Linked DNA regions of Homo sapiens: region 2 is reported to be linked to region 1. Evidence: microRNA targets listed by miRTarBase, many of them from high-throughput screens and not tested one by one. Region 1 holds a microRNA gene; the other region holds the end of a gene's coding sequence. Distances are between the middles of the regions.

Region 1 (8,549 bases):
TAACAATTAGAACTCTGATGGACAACATGCAACATGATAACAGCAATTACTGAGAAGAATCTCTAAGTACCATCAACCAGTAGTATTTAAAACCCAGCAAGCCTCTCAAATCTGAATAACTTGCTGACGAAGTAAAGTGCCTCAAACATTTAAACGTTTGAGTTCAGGCCGGGCGCAGTGGCTCATGTCTGTAATCCCAAGGCTGAGATGGGCAGATCACTTGAGGTCAGGAATTCGAGACCAGCCTGGCCAACATGGTGAAACTCTGTCTTTACAAAAATACAAAAATTAGCCAGGTGTGGTGGTGAGCACCTGTAATCCCAGCTACTCGGGAGTGCGAGGCAGGAGAATCGCTTAAACCCAGGAGGTGGAAGCTGCAGTGAGCCGAGATCGCACCACTGCACTCCAGCCTGGGCGACAGAGCGAGACTCCGTCTCAAAAAAATAAAATAAATAAATAAATGCTTGTGTTTAGTAGAAGAAAGCTGATTATAAGAATTAACTCTGGCCGGGCGCGGTGGCTCACGCCTGTAATCCCAACACTTTGGGAGGCCAAGGCGGGTGGATTACCTGAGGTCAAGAGTTCAAGACCAACCTGGGCAACACAGTGAAACCCCATCTCTACTAAAAATACAAAATTCGCTGGACATGGTGGTGGGCGCCTGTGATCCCAGCTACTCGGGAGGCTGAGGCAGGAGAATCGCTTGAACCCAGGAGGCAGAGTTGCAGTGAGCCCATATAGCACCATTGCACTCCAGCCTGGGCAAAAAGAGCAAAACTCTGCCTAAAAAAAAAAAGTCACTGAGCTGACCCAATCTTCCTATTATAAAGACATACTAGAAGAAAACATAAGCAGGCACAGAAGCATAATCTTAAAAGAAAAAGAGTAAAAGACAAAAATAATACAAGCAAACCACACTTGCGACCTAGTGGCAGGACTGATTTCTTAGGGATGAATTCAATCTTTTGAGCCTCCCCGTTCTCAGAGAGGGGACTTCAGCCTCCCACGGCTCTCTAGCAACCCTTCTGGCTGACTGCAGGGAACGCAGGGGACGCGCAAAAGTAAAGGAACGAAAGCAAGGAAAGAGAGTCTCTTCCCGAGGAAAAAGACGGAATCTTGAAATGAGAGAAAACGAACAGCACGAAAGGGAAGAAACCTCGAAAAATTACGCCAGAGTGGGGACTACAAGGAGGAAGGGGAAGTACATTAGAAAAAAAGGGGGGGGTGGGGGGAGGAAGGGGCAAATGACTTGCATTACACAAGCATTTCGTGTCCCTAGTGGAAAGGACAGAAGCAGATAGAGAAGGAAGGAAATAACTGGAGAAAGAGGAGTAAGAAAGCCAAAATAGACTAATGCTAATTTCTCTCATGTGTCTGACATTTCGGAAAGTCAACAGCATCAAAAAGAGACAGACCTCAAGTGCACTTCAGTCCCCTGCAAACTGCACTTTCACAGCGTTTGAAGCCAGCCTTGAAAAACTTTCTAAACAAGCCATAACTCATGTGTGGCTTACAATCATAGAGAGGGCGCGCTGCAAATGAAAATTACCAGCGCCCGCTCTCGCCGCAATCCTTCCTCGGTGCAGTCCAACCTGCTACTGCTGAATTTTTCTTGACAAATATTTTTCAAATAGTTTTTTTTTTTAAGTGTCAGAATAAAGGTATCTCCCCCGGCTCCAGCAGCAAACGTTCCACCCCAAAGTGGATTCCCGCACAAAATTAAGCCCAAAGACGCCAGGAGATGGTGACGTGGTTGCCGTGCAGGTCGAAGGCACATCAATCACCACAGCTGCAGCCCACACCAGTCCCCCGCCGCCAGGCTCGGGTAGACTGACTCGGTCGGCGTTCGGCCCGCCTGGGCTTCCCGGGCCCCTTCCGTGCAAACCCTCCCGATGAAGGCAGGGGACCTCGCCAGAGAACCCCGACCTCTTCCCCCGGACTGCCCAGAGCCAAGAGCCGGAGGAGGACGGTCCCCAGGAAGGAAGCGCCCCAAAAGGGGAAACGTAGAGTCCGGAGCCCCGGGGATTGCGCTCCACGTCCCAAGCCTCGCCGCCCCGACGCGAACCCCGGGGCCGGTCCCGGTTCCCCCGGGGCCCACTCCCGCTGTAGAGCCAAGAGGAAAAGGCACGAGAGAGGCGCCGAGCGCAGCCTCCCGTACTCACCGTGGCGCAGCTGCTCCGCTCAGCGTCCGGCCCGCCCCTCCACAACGCTGCGAGCGGCCGGCGACCCCAAGGCTGCTCTGCGAGGGCAGCGCTTGCTCCCGCCGCCGTCACCGCCACAGGCACAGACTCTGCCACAGCCGCCGCCGCCGCTGCCGCCGCCCGGTCGCCGAAGCAGCAATACCTCCTGGCTTCCGCTCCCCGTCGGTGTCCCGCGAGAACTTCTCCACGAGGCCCCGCCCCGCCCCCGCGAGACTTCCCCCGGCGGAAAAGGCCCAGAGCGCAAGCGCTCCTCCTCAGCCGGGCCCCTGCGGGTAGGGAACCAGCTAGGTGTCAGGGCGCATGCGCCAGACCTCCCCGCAGCAGGTGGCCTCCGCACGGCTCCGCCCCCGGGTCGCCGTAACCCTCTCGGTGCCAGAGCGGGTAAATGACAGCTTAGCCCTGAAGGACTCTTCCCCCGTCTAATCACTTTATTTTCCTCTTCTACCAAACCTAGGCAGTTGGATGGGTAGGGGCTTGGGGGAGGAAGAGATCTTCCAGAATGAAGCACTCCAAATAGAGGACCAGGTCTTAAAATATTTGAGAATCCGGTCCGTACAAACTCTGCTGTGTTGAATGATTGGTGAGTTTGTTTGCTCATTGATTGAATCACTGCAGAGTTTGTACGGACCGGATTCTCCAATATAGGCCGAACACTGTGCTGGGGATAGAACAGAAATCTTGGCCCTTAAGGAATTCACGGTCTAGGAAGTAGAAGAAAAATAAACAAATAATGCCATAAGTACTGTTATAATTATTTGGAGTTTGCTGAGGAAGCTAAAAAAATGGAGGGGGTACTGCTACACTGCCCATTGCAGAAGAGCCTTCACAGATGTGATGCGGCGATGTCTGATCTGAGTCTTGGAGGATGAGTAGGAATTTGCCAGGCAGAGAAGCCAGAGTAAGGGCATTTCAGGGAAAGGGAATGGCACGTAAGTACAGAGGCTAAGTACAGAGGAACGGAGGCGTGAGAGAGAAAGTCGTGTTCTGTGCAGTGCTAAGTAGTTCAATTCCTGTATGAGGCCGGTGAGTACGGGGGAGTGGCAGAAGATGAGGCTTGGAGAAATAATTCTTATTTTTCAGTTCCCAAAGCTCTTCCAATTAAAGGATAGAACACAACACACCTAGCGTTACTGTGCCTTCTGGAAGCCAACAAAATAGCGCTGAGGTGAGAATAACCAAGCATCTGATTCTATAGAGAAAAGAAGCCCATTGAAACACAGAAAATGAATTGTGCTTTCACCAAGTATTTATTGAGCATCACCTGTGTGCAAGGGGCTCTGCAGGGTCAAAGACCAACCAGATGAAGCCCCTGCTTTCAGTGCTTTGTAATCTAGAGTTGCCTAATCTGTAAGACAAGCAGTTGGCCCCAAGTGCCACTGAACTACACATAGGGATGGCTGAGGAGGGAGCCAGTACTTGGTGCTGAGCTAATCAAGAAGGATTTGGTTTGAACGGCAAAGTGAAAGCAGGGAGGAAAGAGGAAAGAGTAATGGAATCAGCCTTTTGTTTTTTTTTTTTTTTTTTTTTTTTGAGACGGAGTTTTGCTCTTGTTGCCCAGGCTGGAGTGCAATGGTGCGCGATCTTGGCTCACCGCAAGCTCCGCCTCCCGGGTTCAAGGGATTCTCCTGCCTCAGCCTCCCGAGTAGCTGGGATTACAGGCATGTGCCACCACACCCAGCTAATTTTGTATTTCTAGTAGAGATGGGGTTTCTCCATGTTGGTCAGGCTGGTCTCAAACTCCTGACCTCAGGTGATCCGCCCACCTTGGCCTCCCAAAGTGCTGGGATTACAGGCGTGAGCCACCATGCCTGTTTTTTTGGTTTTTTTTTTTTTTTTGAGACTTGCACTGTTGCCCAGGCTGGAGTGGAGTGCAGTGGCATGATTTTGGCTCACTGCAACTTCCGCCTCCTGGGTTCAAGCATTCTCTCACCTCAGCCTCTCAAGTAGCTGAGATTACAGCAGCCTGCCACCACACCCAGCTAATTTTTGTATTTTTAATAGAGACAGGGTTTCGCCATGTTGGCCAGGCTGGTCTCGAACTCCTGACCTCAGGTGATCCACCTGCCTCAGCCTCTCAAAGTGCTGGGATTACAGATGTGAGCCAACACTCCTGGCCATCAACCAATGTTTTTGATTAGTCCAAGCCCCAGTAATTGGGGGGAAGAGTGATGAGAGAGAGGGGCCAAAATGCAAAATGCATGGCTTAGGTGTCATAGTCAAGTGATGGGCAACCTCTGAAGGTTTCTGAGCAGGAGGTGTCTGATATGAGGTGAAAATAAGAAAAGGACCCTCTATTTACCACTTGATGCATACTTAAGTCATAGCGCCTCCACAGGGTGGGTAATATCCCCATTTTACAGACTTGGAAACTAAGCCTTAGAGAGGTTAGTAATTTACCCAAGGAAGCCAAAATATAGTAGACCTAAGATTTGGACTAAGGCCTGTCTTGTTCTAAAATCCTCATTTTTTTCCCGCACTATGCCACTTTGTTCTAAAATAGCAGTCAGAAAAAAATAGAAATGGAAGGGAGGGACTTAGCTGCTAAGCAGAGAGGAAGACATGAGGGAAGAATTGCAGTTTTTTGTTTTGAGTGGGCCTGGATAACAGGGAGAACACAGAAATTTGCCAGTCAAGAGGCATAGCTGACTGGAGGGGGCAGGCACAGAGAACAGGGAAGGGCAGGTGAGGAGATGATTGTAAGGGTGAAGGGAATTTTTCCCTTCCACTCTGACAGTTTGAGTCTGCTGAAATAAACTGGCAATAGATTAACAGGAGAAAGCACATACAAATTTACTGACATGCAGTGTGCATGGTTACCATACAGAATATGAGACTCAGAGAAGAGCCAGGTGGCTGAAGCTTAAAGAGCACCATCTTTGCAGAGGAGAGGGAGATGAGCGGAGGTCAGCAATACTGAAAGGTAGTCAACTATTTTTAGGGAAAAGGAATGAGCCCAAACAATGCCTGGGACAAAGTTCCTCTGAGCTCTGGGAGCTGGAGGTTGTGACAAATTTCAGGAAGGTGAGGTGCAGGACTTCACTGTAAATAAAGGTTGTCTTATTATGCAGATAAAGTCTCCTAAATAATCTCAGCTGTCCTCAGGAGAATAGATGAAAAGTCTGTTTGGATGTGGTGACAACTTTTAGTCTTTTCTCTTCTCTGGTAGTTAATATTTCCTGGTTATTTGACGAGAGTCCTAGGGAGGAAATTTTAAGACAGTCGCATCTATTTTTTTTCTTTTCTTTTCTTTTTTTTTTTTTTGAGATGTAGTTTCACTCTTGTTGTCCAGGCTGGAGTGCAATGGCGTGATCTCAGCTCACCGAAACCTCCACCTCCCAGGTTCAAGTGATGCTCCTGCCTCAGCCTCCAGAGTAGCTGGCATTACAGGCATGCACCACCACGCCCGGCTAATTTTGTATGTTTAGCAGAGATGGGGCTTTTCCCTGTTGGTCAGGCTGGTCTCGAACTCCCGACCTCAGGTGATCCGCCCGCCTTGGCCTCCCAAAGTGCTGGGATCACAGGCGTGAGCCACCACACCTGCTCTTTTTCTTTCTTTCTTTTTTAATGGATCCCTTCACAGATTTGCATGTCTTCTTGCTCAGGGGCTATGCTAATCTCTGTATCATTCCAATTTTAGTATATGTGCTGCCAAAGCAAGTACACAATTGAATTTCTTTTGGTTTCTCAGTCAGCTAAGGGAACTTTCAGACAGCCCCTGCATGCATGTGGGGTGGTGAAACAAGACTTTAAAAAGTCCTTGGTTCTGAGGCAGCTTGTAAGTCCTTCCAATTTCCTTTCATTCAAAAGTGCTCAGAATGCCAGAGGAGCATACTTTGGGGTATCATTCTCTGAGCCCCAACATGATGATGACTCATTTTTGGAAATGCAGAATTCAGCATTCCAGGAGACATGCAGGTGGAAATATTCAGTATGCTGTTGAAAAGCTTGACAAGCTGGACGCAGCGTTCTCTCCCATAATCCCAGCACTTTGGGAGGCTGAGGCAGGTGGATCACTTGAAGTCAGGAGTTTGAGACCAGCCTAGCCAACATGGTGAAACCTCATCTCTACTAAAAATGCAAAAATTAGCCGGGCGTGGTGGCACATGCTTGTAACCCCAGCTACTCGGGAGGCTGAGGCAGGAGAATTGCTTGAACCCAGGAGGCGGAGGTTGCAGTAAGCAAAGATCATGCCACTGCACTCCAACCTGGGTGACAGAACCAGACTCCATCTCAAAAAAAAAAATAAATAAATAAATAAAAGAAAAGCTTAATGTACTCATTCATTCTCTTTGCCAACATTAACTAAGCATCTATTCTCTTTGTTTGTTTTTTTTTGTTTTTGAGACAGGGTCTCACTCTTGTCACCCAGGCTGGAGTGCAGTGGCGCAACCTCAGCTCACTGCAGCCTTGACTTCCCAGGCTCAGGTAATTCTCCCATCTGAGTCTCCCAAGTAGCCAGAACTACAGGCACATGCCGCCATGCCCAGCTAATTTTTTGTGTTATGTAAGTATGTATGTATGTACGTATGTATGTATGTATGTATGTATTGAGACAGGGTCTCACTCTGTTGCCCAGGCTGGAGTGCAGTGGCACGATCAGGGCTCACTGCAGCCTCAACCTCCTGGGCAAGAGATCCTCCTGCCTCAGCCCCCCAGTACCTGGGACAACAGTCATGCACCACCACGCTTGGCTAAATTTTTGTGTTTTTAGTAGAGATGGGTATCATCATGTTGGTTAGGTTGGTCTCAAACTCCTGGGCTCAGGCAATCTGCCCGCCTTGGCCTCCCAAAGTGCTAAGATTACAAGCGTGAGCCACCACGCCCAGCCTAGAGCATCTACTCTCTAGAGAGGAGGACAACCCTCCACAGAGTCTGCAGCCTGAAGGGGAAGACATGTCTCTGAGAATTTGACCAGGATAGTGCTGGTGGCTTTGGAAGCATACAGCAGGGGACCTGACCTCATCCACTATGAGGGAAGGCAGAGGAAGTGGGCTTTAAGCTGAGACCCTGGTTAGCCTGAGAGGAAGAAATGATACAGCAAGTGTGAAGGCCAGACAGTAAGCAAGGATGTAAGGAAGCCAATAGCTGGGACAAGGAAGGATGTGTGGCATGTGGGTAAAGCAGCTGAAGAGGCTCGTGAAGGGCCTTTGCTTTTCTCTCTCTCTCTCTCTCTCTTTTTTTGAGATAGGGTCTTGCTGTATTGCCCAGGCTGAAGTACAGTGGTGTGATCACAACTCACTGCAGCCTCAACCTCCTGAACTCAAACAATCCTCCTGCCACATAGCTGGGATCATAGGCATGCGCCATCACCATGCCTGACTAATTTTTTTTTTTTTTTTTTTGAGACAGAGTCTTGCTCTGTCACCCAGGCTGGAGTGAAGTGGCACCATCTTGGCTCACTGCAACCTCTGCCTCCCAGGTTGAAGCAATTCTCCTGCCTCAGCCTCCCCAATAGCTGGGACTACAGGCACGCACCACCACGCCTGGGTAATTTTCGTATTTTTAGTAGAGATGGGGGTATCACCATGTTGGCCAGGCTGCTCTCGAACTCCTGACCTCAGATGATCCACACACCTCGGCCTCCCAAAGTGCTGGGATTACAGGCATAGGCCACTGCACCCAGACTAATTTTTTTATTTTTTGTAGAGAAGAGGAGTCTGACTTTGTTGCTAGCCTGGTCTTGAACTCTTGATCCTCCCACCTCAGCATCCTAAAGTGCTGGGGTTACAGGCATGAGCCACTGCACCCACTTTTTCATTATTGCTAAAGACTTGAGACTTGACTCTGTGGAATACTGAAGTAGGAGTGGGCCATGGTCAAATTTTTATCTTCCAAATATTTTGTCACTCTGGCTGCAGAGTAGAAAACCAATTGGAACTAAGACATTCATCATCTACTGTCTCAAGTCCCTTACAAGGCTCTTAAAGATCTGGCCCTTCCAGCCAGTGCCACCTTCTCAGTCTCCAGTAACACATACTCCACCAATACTAACCCACTTGTGGTTTCCGGAAGGTGTCATGATCCTTTGAGTGTCCATATCTTTACACATGCAATTTCCTCTGTTCAGTTGGCTTTCTACCCTTCCACTAGGTCCCCAAGTCAGTTTTCTTCTTCAAAATTTCCATGGTAGGTCAGGCACAGTGGCTCACATCTCACTTTAGGAGGTGGAGGTGGGTGGATCAGTTGAGTCCAGGAGTTCAAGACCAACCTGGGCAACATGGTAAAACCCCACCTCTACTAAAAATGCAAAAATTAGCTGGGCAGGGTGGCAAACACCTCTAGTTGGGAGCTACTCAGGAGGCTGAGGTAGTAGGATCATCTGAGCCCGGGAGATGGAGGCTACAGTGA
Region 2 (8,549 bases), 74 Mb from region 1:
GAGGCGGAGATTGCAGTGAGCTGAGATTGCGCCACTGCACTCCAGCCTGAATGACGACAGCGCGAGACTTCGTCTCAAAAAAAAAAAAAAAAAAAAAAAAAGAACACAGTTCCTGTCCCCGCCCCACCTCCGAGGGCCAGATTTCCTCACCAGGTACCAGGAACTTGTTCCAAGCCCAGAGGTTCAGATCAGCCCGTGTTTCCTGGGGGCCCAGGCCCTGAGGGTGGCCACATGGCCTGTGAAGAGTTGGGAACCGGGACGCTGGCATATGGGACCTCGTGGGCCTTCCTGTTTCGTTCCCCCTTCCACCCCGTGACCTTCTCCCCTTTCCCAAACCCGAGTGGAGGGCGGGTCTGCAGCCTCGGCGCACCACCACGCCCTGTGATGCGCGGCCTCCCTGCCTCCCCAGGTGAACGTGGGGCTGCTCCTTCTCAGCCTGCTGGGCTTCTGCCTCCCGCTCTACCTGATCTGCTACCGGCGCCAGCTGGAGCGGCAGCTGCAGCAGAGGCAGGAGGATGACAAACTCTTCCTCAAAATCAACGGCTCGTCCAACCAGGAGGCCTTCGTGTAGTGGCTGCCGCCTCGGAACTGCGGTCTCCTGCCTGTGCTTCAGTGACTGACCCCTGTCCTGCCCCTCCAGAGTACCCCACGCACCCCCAGGACCTTCGCCGTCTCCGTGCCAGCGTTCACGCTCCCTCCCGGGGCCCTGCCTCGGAGCTCTGTGGTGGAAGGACGGGAGAGGGCCCCGGACACGCGCGTTTTCTCCTGCCGAACGCAGGGGCTGCCCTGACTTTGCTCTGCCGCCCCCCGGGGACCCGGGGCCTGGGGTCTCTGTGGTGCCTGCAGCAGGAGCCAGGAACGCCCGGCAGGCAGGCGCTCTCCCGCCAGTGTCTGGATTCTGCCTCTTGCCAAAGCAGAGGGGGCTGCCATCCCCTGCCTGCCACCTGCCCCTCGGCTGCATGCCCACAGCCGTACCTGCCTGAGGACAAAGGCTTGCACTGTCTCGCCCGCGCCTGGCCCCCACCCCCTCCCCGGCCAGCCTGAGGCTGCCTGAGGAAGGAAGGACCCGCTTCCTGTTGTCGGTGCTAATTCCTTTGTAATTCCAGCCCCCTGTCGCCTGTCCAGGGCCTGCCCACCCGTTGGAGGCCGGTGGAGAAGCCCCACCTGGCTTATGCCCTGGAGAGGGTTTAGCGGGCTGGGTGGACCCCTCGCCTCCTCCCCGAGGGCCAATGCCGCGGACACGTTTTCACTGTCACCCTCGTTCTGTCTGCCACCTGAAGGGAATTTGAGGACCGCCGCCAGGGCACCCCGTACATACACACAGCTGCTTTTGTGGAGGTGGACGAAAGGCTGTGGCCGGCAGACGTGGAGGTCCAGGCCGGGGTGGGGACGTGGGTGGGTCCGAGGTGTGTGTGGGGTCGGGGTGGGCTCTAGGAGTTAGCCCTTATCCCCACTGACCAGGCGGGAGCCGCCAGGCCTGCAGCTGGGCCAGTGCCCAGGAGCCATCCTGGCGTGGGGCCAGGAGCTTGTCCAAGGCCACAGGCCCACAGCACCCCCTGCCGGCGGGCTCCGTGGGGCCCTGGAGCTGATGACGGGGGAGGCCCGTCCGCCTGGCCCACCAACCCGCCCACCTTGACTGCCCCCAGAAGTGTGTCTTGAGACCTCCTGGGCGTGCTTAGAGGGGTGAGTTGTGTTTGGATTTTTAGTTATTTTCTCTTCAGTTTTATTAGACTTCTTTTTTATAAAGCAATAAATCCATTTTCCTCCGGGTAAGGGATGCCCCTTCTGGCATATCAGTTAATAGCTGCATGTGCCTATTTTGAGCTTGAGAAGAAAAGGCAGGACAAGATTCTCTGCCACCGACCAGCTCCAGCCGTGCCCAGCTGCTCTTCGTCTCTCTGGGGGACTGCTGACTCGGGAGGGACAGTGGGCCAGGAAAAGACCTTCCTCCCCAACCCCCAAACAAACTGGGCTTGTGCAGACATCTTAGAAGTGTGAGCCACCCTCCTCTACCGATTTTCCCAGCCAAACAGGCGAATCCTGGTCCCTTTCCATCCCTACACCCTTCCACAACCCTGAAGATTCCCGCTGGGTTCTTCTGCAGGCTCAGAGCAGTTCAGGATGTGGGCGGCAGGGAGGGGGATGAAAGGAGAAGAGGAAAGGGCAGGTCCAGGCCACATTCAAGCTCCACATTAACAGCTTGGGCGCCTGGAACACATATCTCCTAGGCTTTATTTCACTCAAATATTTAAAAAAAGACTGGGCGTGGTGGCTCACGCCTATAATCCCAGCACTTTGGGAGGCCAAGGCAGGAGGCTCACCTGAGGTCAGGAGTTCGAGACCATCCTGACCAACATGGAGAAACCCCGTCTGTACTAAAAATAAACATTAATCGGGCGTGGTGGCGTGCGCCTGTAATCCCAACTACTCGGGAGCCTGAGGCAGGAGAATCGCTTGAACCGGGGAGACGGAGATTGCCGTGAGTCGAGATCGCACCATTGCACTCCAGCCTGGGCAACAGAGCGAGGCTCCGTCTCAAAAAGAAAAAAAAAAAGAGAACGAGATAAACATGCCCACTCCTGAGAACACTCGTTTTGTGATGTTAGTGGTTATTCTGATTTTCAAGAAAGTATTATAGTCAAGTTTGGGAAAGGCTGAGTTAAAAGTCAAGCCTGTTTCCTTACAGCCAGCACTGACAGCACTTTGCCAACGCTCATGAGCTCCGTGGCTCCTCAGGAGCGGGTGTGCTGTGCTGCCGAGGAACGGCTCGAACCATCAGAGCCACCAGCCTCCACGTGCGGCTCCATGATCACCCCCAGCAGAGGCTCCCGGGTGCTGGTTCCAAATGGAGACTCCAGGTCTTGCCGCTGACCGGTGACTCTGCTGCCAGCATTTGAGACCCGCCATCACACAGGAGTTGCAGATTCGGAGAAACCCTAACTAGCCAGGGTGCTGCCAGCTGGGAAAAGGCCGCCTTTTTTTTTTTTTTTTTTTTTTTGAGTTGGGGTCTTGCTCTGCCATCCAGGCTGGAGTGCAGTGGTGCAACTGATAGCTCACCACGGCCTCCAACTCATGGGCTCAAGGGATCCTCCCACCTCGGCCTCCTAAGTATCTGGGACTATAAGTGTGTGCCACCATGCCTGGCTAATTTTTTTTTTCTTTTTCATAAAGATGAATTCTTGCTATTTTGCCCAGGCTGGTCTGGAACTCCTGGGCTGAAGCAATTCTCCCACCTCAGCCTCCCAAAGTGCTGAGATTACAGGCGTGAGTCACAATGCCTAGCCAAAAAGCCAGTCTTGAGATGGGGAAGACGTGGCCCGTGCTGTCCCCAGCAGTGCCCAGTCCCAGCCAAAGTGGGCAGTGCTGCCTCACTCTCCCACCCACCCTCAGGGTGTGGCACTTACTGGGAAGAAGCAGGCATTGAGAAACAGAATTGAGGGGGGGAAACAGTCCAGGGCCAACAGTGCTTGGGGATTGAGGCCTGAAAATGCGAGCAGGGTACAGAGGCTGTGGCTGGCCAGATGGGTCGGGTGCCCCCTGCACTCCCACCCCCTAGTCAGGGGTCACCCATCCTACTTTGCCTTGTGTGGAGCTGACAGGTGACATGTTTTCCTATTGTTGTCCTTGACTTGATAACAATCTGGGAGTTAAACACATATGATCATCCCTGCTTTACAACTGAAAAACGAGGCCTAGAGATACTATCATCATATACACCTGAAAAACGAGGCCTGGAGCGATGGAGGAGCTTGTTCAAGGTCAGAGCCAGCACTCATATATGGGTCTTAAGACACTGGAGCAGCCAAGGGCCTCTAGACCAGGACATTCCACTCGGAGCAGCAGCTCAGGGGCCACCAGGCCTCTGTGGCAGGGGGACCTCTGTGGCAGGGGGGACCTCTGTGGCGGGGGGGGGGCCTCTGTGGCAGGGGGGTCACAGCCCAAGGAAGGGGAGCAGGCCCAGGCATGGTTTCCGTTTCTGGGAGCCAAGAGCCTTCTCAGAAGAGGGGGAGAGAGCTACTGCATGGAATCATTTGGGCCCTGGAGGCTGATGGGTACTTGGGGGAGCAATCCCTGGTGACCCCAACCAGCAAGACAAGTGCCCTGTGAAGGGGAAGGGACTACAGCTGATCAAAGGAGCAGGCACCAGTGGCCGGGCCTCCCGTCTGCCCCTCATCCTCCAGGCTCTGGCGGGAAGGAGCAGGAAGGGCTCCCTGCCCTTGGGGTTTTGATCAGTGAGGAGGGGGGCTTGGGTCTGAGTCTGGGTCTGGGTCTGCTGCCGAAACACTGCCCCCAGTCCCTCTCCTCACTAGACTCTGGGGTCTAGGCGTGTCTTTGTGGTCGGCCTTCTCCAAACCCTCTAGGCCTCTGTCTGCAGCTGCTGCTGCCTGGACCTATACACAAGGTCCCACCCCTCACCGGGGCCAAAGACGTGGTTGCAGGCCCTGGTGGATCCTTTCTGTTTTGCTCCATCCCCGTCCCCTCTTGCACCCAGCATCGTCCTGGTCAGAACTTCCGTTTAAACCTTCCTTGCCTGCCGTGCACTCCGAGGGGGGCGTCACTTTGCCATAGGCCCCAGGGCTGAAAATGGCGGGACATCCAGTATTGGGCTCACGTGCATAAGACTGTCCCAGACAGCAGCACAATCACGTTCAGCCAAGTGGAGTTTCCGACGCACTTGTGTGGCAGCCGCGTGAATGTGAGCCGATATGCAGCTGGGAGGGGTTGTGGGCCTCCTGCGGTGAGGGGCTCCTGCCAGGAGCTCTGAGAAGCCTCCACAGAATCAGCCGTCGGGCTCCTTCAGCAGCAGCTCCCCTTATCTGTGCCAACGACTGGGGGCCTAACTCAAGGGTGCCAGCCCGTCTTCCGCCAATACAGACTGTGGGATTCTGAGAGTTAGGAGCCTGGGGTCCCCTGGGGTGGGGTGGTCAGGGTGAGCAGGTGGGCTCTGTGAGCCTGTTTCCCCATGCCCTGACTCACCCCAATCCCTGGGTGAGGACAGAGCTCCTGAAGGCCACTGAAGGAGGTGCAGCACACTCCACCTGGGTGGCCTTCCGCAGCTCAGCCCTCTTCCTGCCAGCAGGAAGCCTCTGCCTGTGCTCCTTAAGTTAGCCATCCTCACCCCCTCCGGGCAGCTCTGAGACTGAGCCAGGGCCACTAGCAGCACCCAGACCTCGACCCTTCTCAGACCGAGGCGCCACCACCCCAGGCCGAGGAGGCAAGGAGGGAAGACCAAAGTCTAGAGGACTGTCTTGGTGGCCCTGGGCGAGTCTTGAACTTTGGTGCCATCATCTGCAAAAGGGAGGAAAGAATGCCTGCGTGGTGCAGCTACGTGGATACGCAGTGAAGACCCGCATGGTGGGACGCCTGGCACTTAACAATGGTAGCATTTGGCCGGGCGCGGTGGCTCACGCCTGTAATCCCAGCACTTTGGGAGGCCGAGGCGGGCGGATCACGAGGTCAGGAGATCAAGACCATCCCGGCTAAAACGGTGAAACCCCGTCTCTACTAAAAATACAAAAAATTAGCCGGGCGTAGTGGCGGGCGCCTGTAGTCCCAGCTACTTGGGAGGCTGAGGCAGGAGAATGGTGTGAACCCGGGAGGCGGAGCTTGCAGTGAGCCGAGATCCCGCCACTGCACTCCAGCCTGGGCGACAGAGCGAGACTCCGTCTCAAAAAAAAAAAAAAAAACAATGGTAGCATCGTTTTCAGTGCCCAGGAAGAAGGCAGCTGGGACAGGGAAAGGGCCACCACACCACACCCAAGCCCATACAACAGGAGAGCCACTTTCAGCAGCTCTGAGCAGGACAGACTTGTGGCCAAGTCAAGAAAGTAAGGTCTGGTCCCAGCGAGGTGGCTCATCCCTGTAATCCCAGTGCTTTGGGAGGCCGAAGCGGGGGCGGGGTGGATCACTTGAGGTCAGGGGTTTGAGACCAGCCTGACCAACATGGTGAAACCTCAACTCTACTAAAAATACAAAAATTAGGGCCGGGCGCAGTGGCTCACGCCTGTAATCCCAGCACTTTGGGAGGCTGAGGCGGGCGGATCACAAGGTCAGGAGATCGAGACCAACGTGGCTAACACAGTGAAACCCCATCTCTACTAAAAATACGAAAAAAAAAAATTAGCTGGGCGTGGTGGTGGGTACCTGTAGTCCCAGCTACTTGGGAGGCTGAGGCAGGAGAATGGCATGAACCCGGGAGGTGAAGCTTGCAGTGAGCCGAGATTGTGCCACTGCACTCCAGCCTGGGCGACAGAGCAAGACTCCGTCTCAAAAAAAAAAAAAAAAAAAAAAAAAGTAAGGTCTGTATCTGCTGACCCCACCCTTCTCCGAAGCCCTCTCCGAGCAAAGCCTTAAGAAACTCTTCTCTCGTTCACTTTTCTTTTGTGGCTTTCACGTTTTGGTAAGACTTGGCCAAATAGCTGCTCGAGATAATCAATCACTGGTGGACAAGTTTCTGCTGAGTGAGGTTTCTGCTGAGTGGGGCGACTCAAGGCACGGTCACGTAGGCAGCACCTGTACACCGCATCCTCATACAGCTGCGGGACCGTGCCTCTGACTGTGTGCGTGTGTGTTTATCTAAGTGTGAGATGCATCCGGGCATGTCAGGGTGTGTACATGTTGGGAAGACTGTGTAGATTTCTTGTGTGCCGCTCTCTGAATGGAGGAGAGGGGAAGCGTCTTACCTCGCTGAATCCCTTTCCATTGCTGGAAAGAACACCTGGGCAGGAGCGGCCCCAAGACCCCGCCCAGGCCCTCGGAAGGGAGCCTGAAGGGTTAATCCGTACCCTGTATTAACCAGGGTCAACCCAGCGGCTGACCCGCCTCTTCCCTGCTCCTTTGCCGTTTCTAGCACCTGGCTTACTTCCTGGCACACAGTGAGCACTCAATAAATGTATGCTGAGAATGACTGCGAGCGGCTTCCTCCTTGGCTCCTGTGTCTCTTTCTCCCTAGATCACACATTTCTCGCCTCTTGTCTGGTGCCCAGGTTCCCTGTCCCTTGACTGGGATGCGTTCCTGACCCCCACCCCTGCCAGGCTGCATTTGCTGGTTGATCTGCATTGCCATTTGAAGGAGTGTGGGAGGGCAGAGCAACAGGCCTTTTGGGTGGGAAGACCAAGGCTGCTGGTGAATTCTGCTTATAAAGGAAGCCCCCTCGGATCACCTGAAGTCAGGAGTTCGAGACTAGCCTGACCAACATGGTGAAACCCTGTCTCTTCTAAAAATACAAAAAGTAGCCAGGCGTGGTGGCGAGCATTTCCAGCACTTTGGGAGGCCGAGGCGGGCAGATCACGAGGTCAGGAGATCGAGACCATCCTGGCTAACATGGTGAAACCCTGTCTCTACTAAAACTACAAAAAATGTCCAGGTGCGGTGGCTCACGCCTGTAATCCCAGCACTTTGGAAGGCCGAGGCGGGCAGATCACGAGCTCAGGAGATCAAGACAATCCTGGCTAACACGGTGAAACCCCGTCTCTACTAAAAATACAAAAAAGTAGCCGGGCGTGGTGACGGGTGCCTGTACTCCCAGCTACTCGGGAGGCTGAGGCAGGAGAATGGCGTGAACCCGGGAGGCGGAGCTTGCAGTGAGCGGAGATTATACCACTGCGCTCCAGCCTGGGCAACAGAGCGAGACTCCGTCTCAAAAAAAAAAAAAGAAAAGAAAGAAAAAAACATTCTTTGAAGGCTGGCGCATGCTCTGCCTTGGTCCCCACTCTACCCCCAGTGCCTAGAATCGTGCCTGGCATGGAATAGCTGCTCAATAAATATTTGGGGGACGAAGTTTAAAAAGAGAGAGAGACAGAAATACCACAGAAAAGAAGCTAAAATAGACTAAGAGGCTGGGAGAAGAGCAGAGCGGAAGATGGAAACAGTGAAATACAGTCTCCCCAGGACACCCAGAGATGGGTTACAGGGCTGGCTATAACCGACGCAGTACCAAGGGTCAACCACCCAGGGGAAACCATGCTGAGAACTGGAACCGTGAGATCCACAGACACAATGATGAAAGAGTGGCCGGGTGCCGTGGCTCATGCCTGTAATCCTGGCACTTTGGGAGGCTGAGGCAGGTGGATCGCTGGAGCCTAGGAGTTGGAGACCAGCCTGGCCAACATGGTGAAACCCCATCTTTACTAAAAGGGCAAAAAATTATCCGGGCGTGGTGGCGGGCACCTGTAATCCCAGTTACTCGGGAGGCTGAGGCAAGAGAATTGCTTGAACCTGGAAGGCAGAGTTTGCAGTGGGCTGAGATGGCACCATTGCACTCCAGCCCGGGCAACAAGAGTGAAACTCCATCTCAAAAAAAAAAAAAGAAAAAACAAAACAAAACAAAAAGACGAAGGAGTGAGAGAGAGAAATAGACTGTGATAGAACACAGCAGACACAGGGGAAAGGAGATAGCCGCAAAGAGACGATGAAACATGGGGTCTTGTGGTTCACATCTATAATCCCAGCAATTCGGGAGGCCCAGCCAGGAGGATCGTTTGAGCCCAGGAGTTTGAAACCAGCCTGGGCAACATAATGAGAGCTTGTCTCTTAAAAAAAAAAAAAA

Evidence for each region. The annotated mature microRNA hsa-miR-3678-3p reads CUGCAGAGUUUGUACGGACCGG and lies in region 1 at 2,811-2,832, shown strand. An mRNA with a match to its seed (bases 2 to 7 or 8) in the 3' UTR can be bound and repressed. Matches are read on the target gene's strand: a 7mer-m8 pairs with bases 2 to 8, a 7mer-A1 pairs with bases 2 to 7 and ends in A, and an 8mer does both.
Region 2: miRTarBase lists SLC43A2 as a target of hsa-miR-3678-3p. Seed matches in the 3' UTR shown: 7mer-A1 at 5,289-5,295.

Annotation. Positions count from the first base shown.
Region 1 is chr17:75,403,327-75,411,875 of GRCh38, forward strand. It overlaps MIR3678 (microRNA 3678), which reads left to right and starts at 2,743; the gene lies at 2,743-2,836. GRB2 (growth factor receptor bound protein 2) reads right to left here and starts at 2,352. Exons shown (of 6, transcript NM_002086.5): 1 at 2,163-2,352. It also overlaps the pseudogene RNU6-938P. RefSeq lists a silencer at 2,410-2,589.
Region 2 is chr17:1,567,626-1,576,174 of GRCh38, reverse strand. It overlaps SLC43A2 (solute carrier family 43 member 2), which reads left to right. Exons shown (of 14, transcript NM_152346.3): 14 at 410-6,907. The coding sequence ends at 571. Among named protein-coding and RNA genes, the nearest start is that of PITPNA, 9.1 kb to the right of the region's middle. RefSeq lists enhancers at 1-659, 3,915-4,750.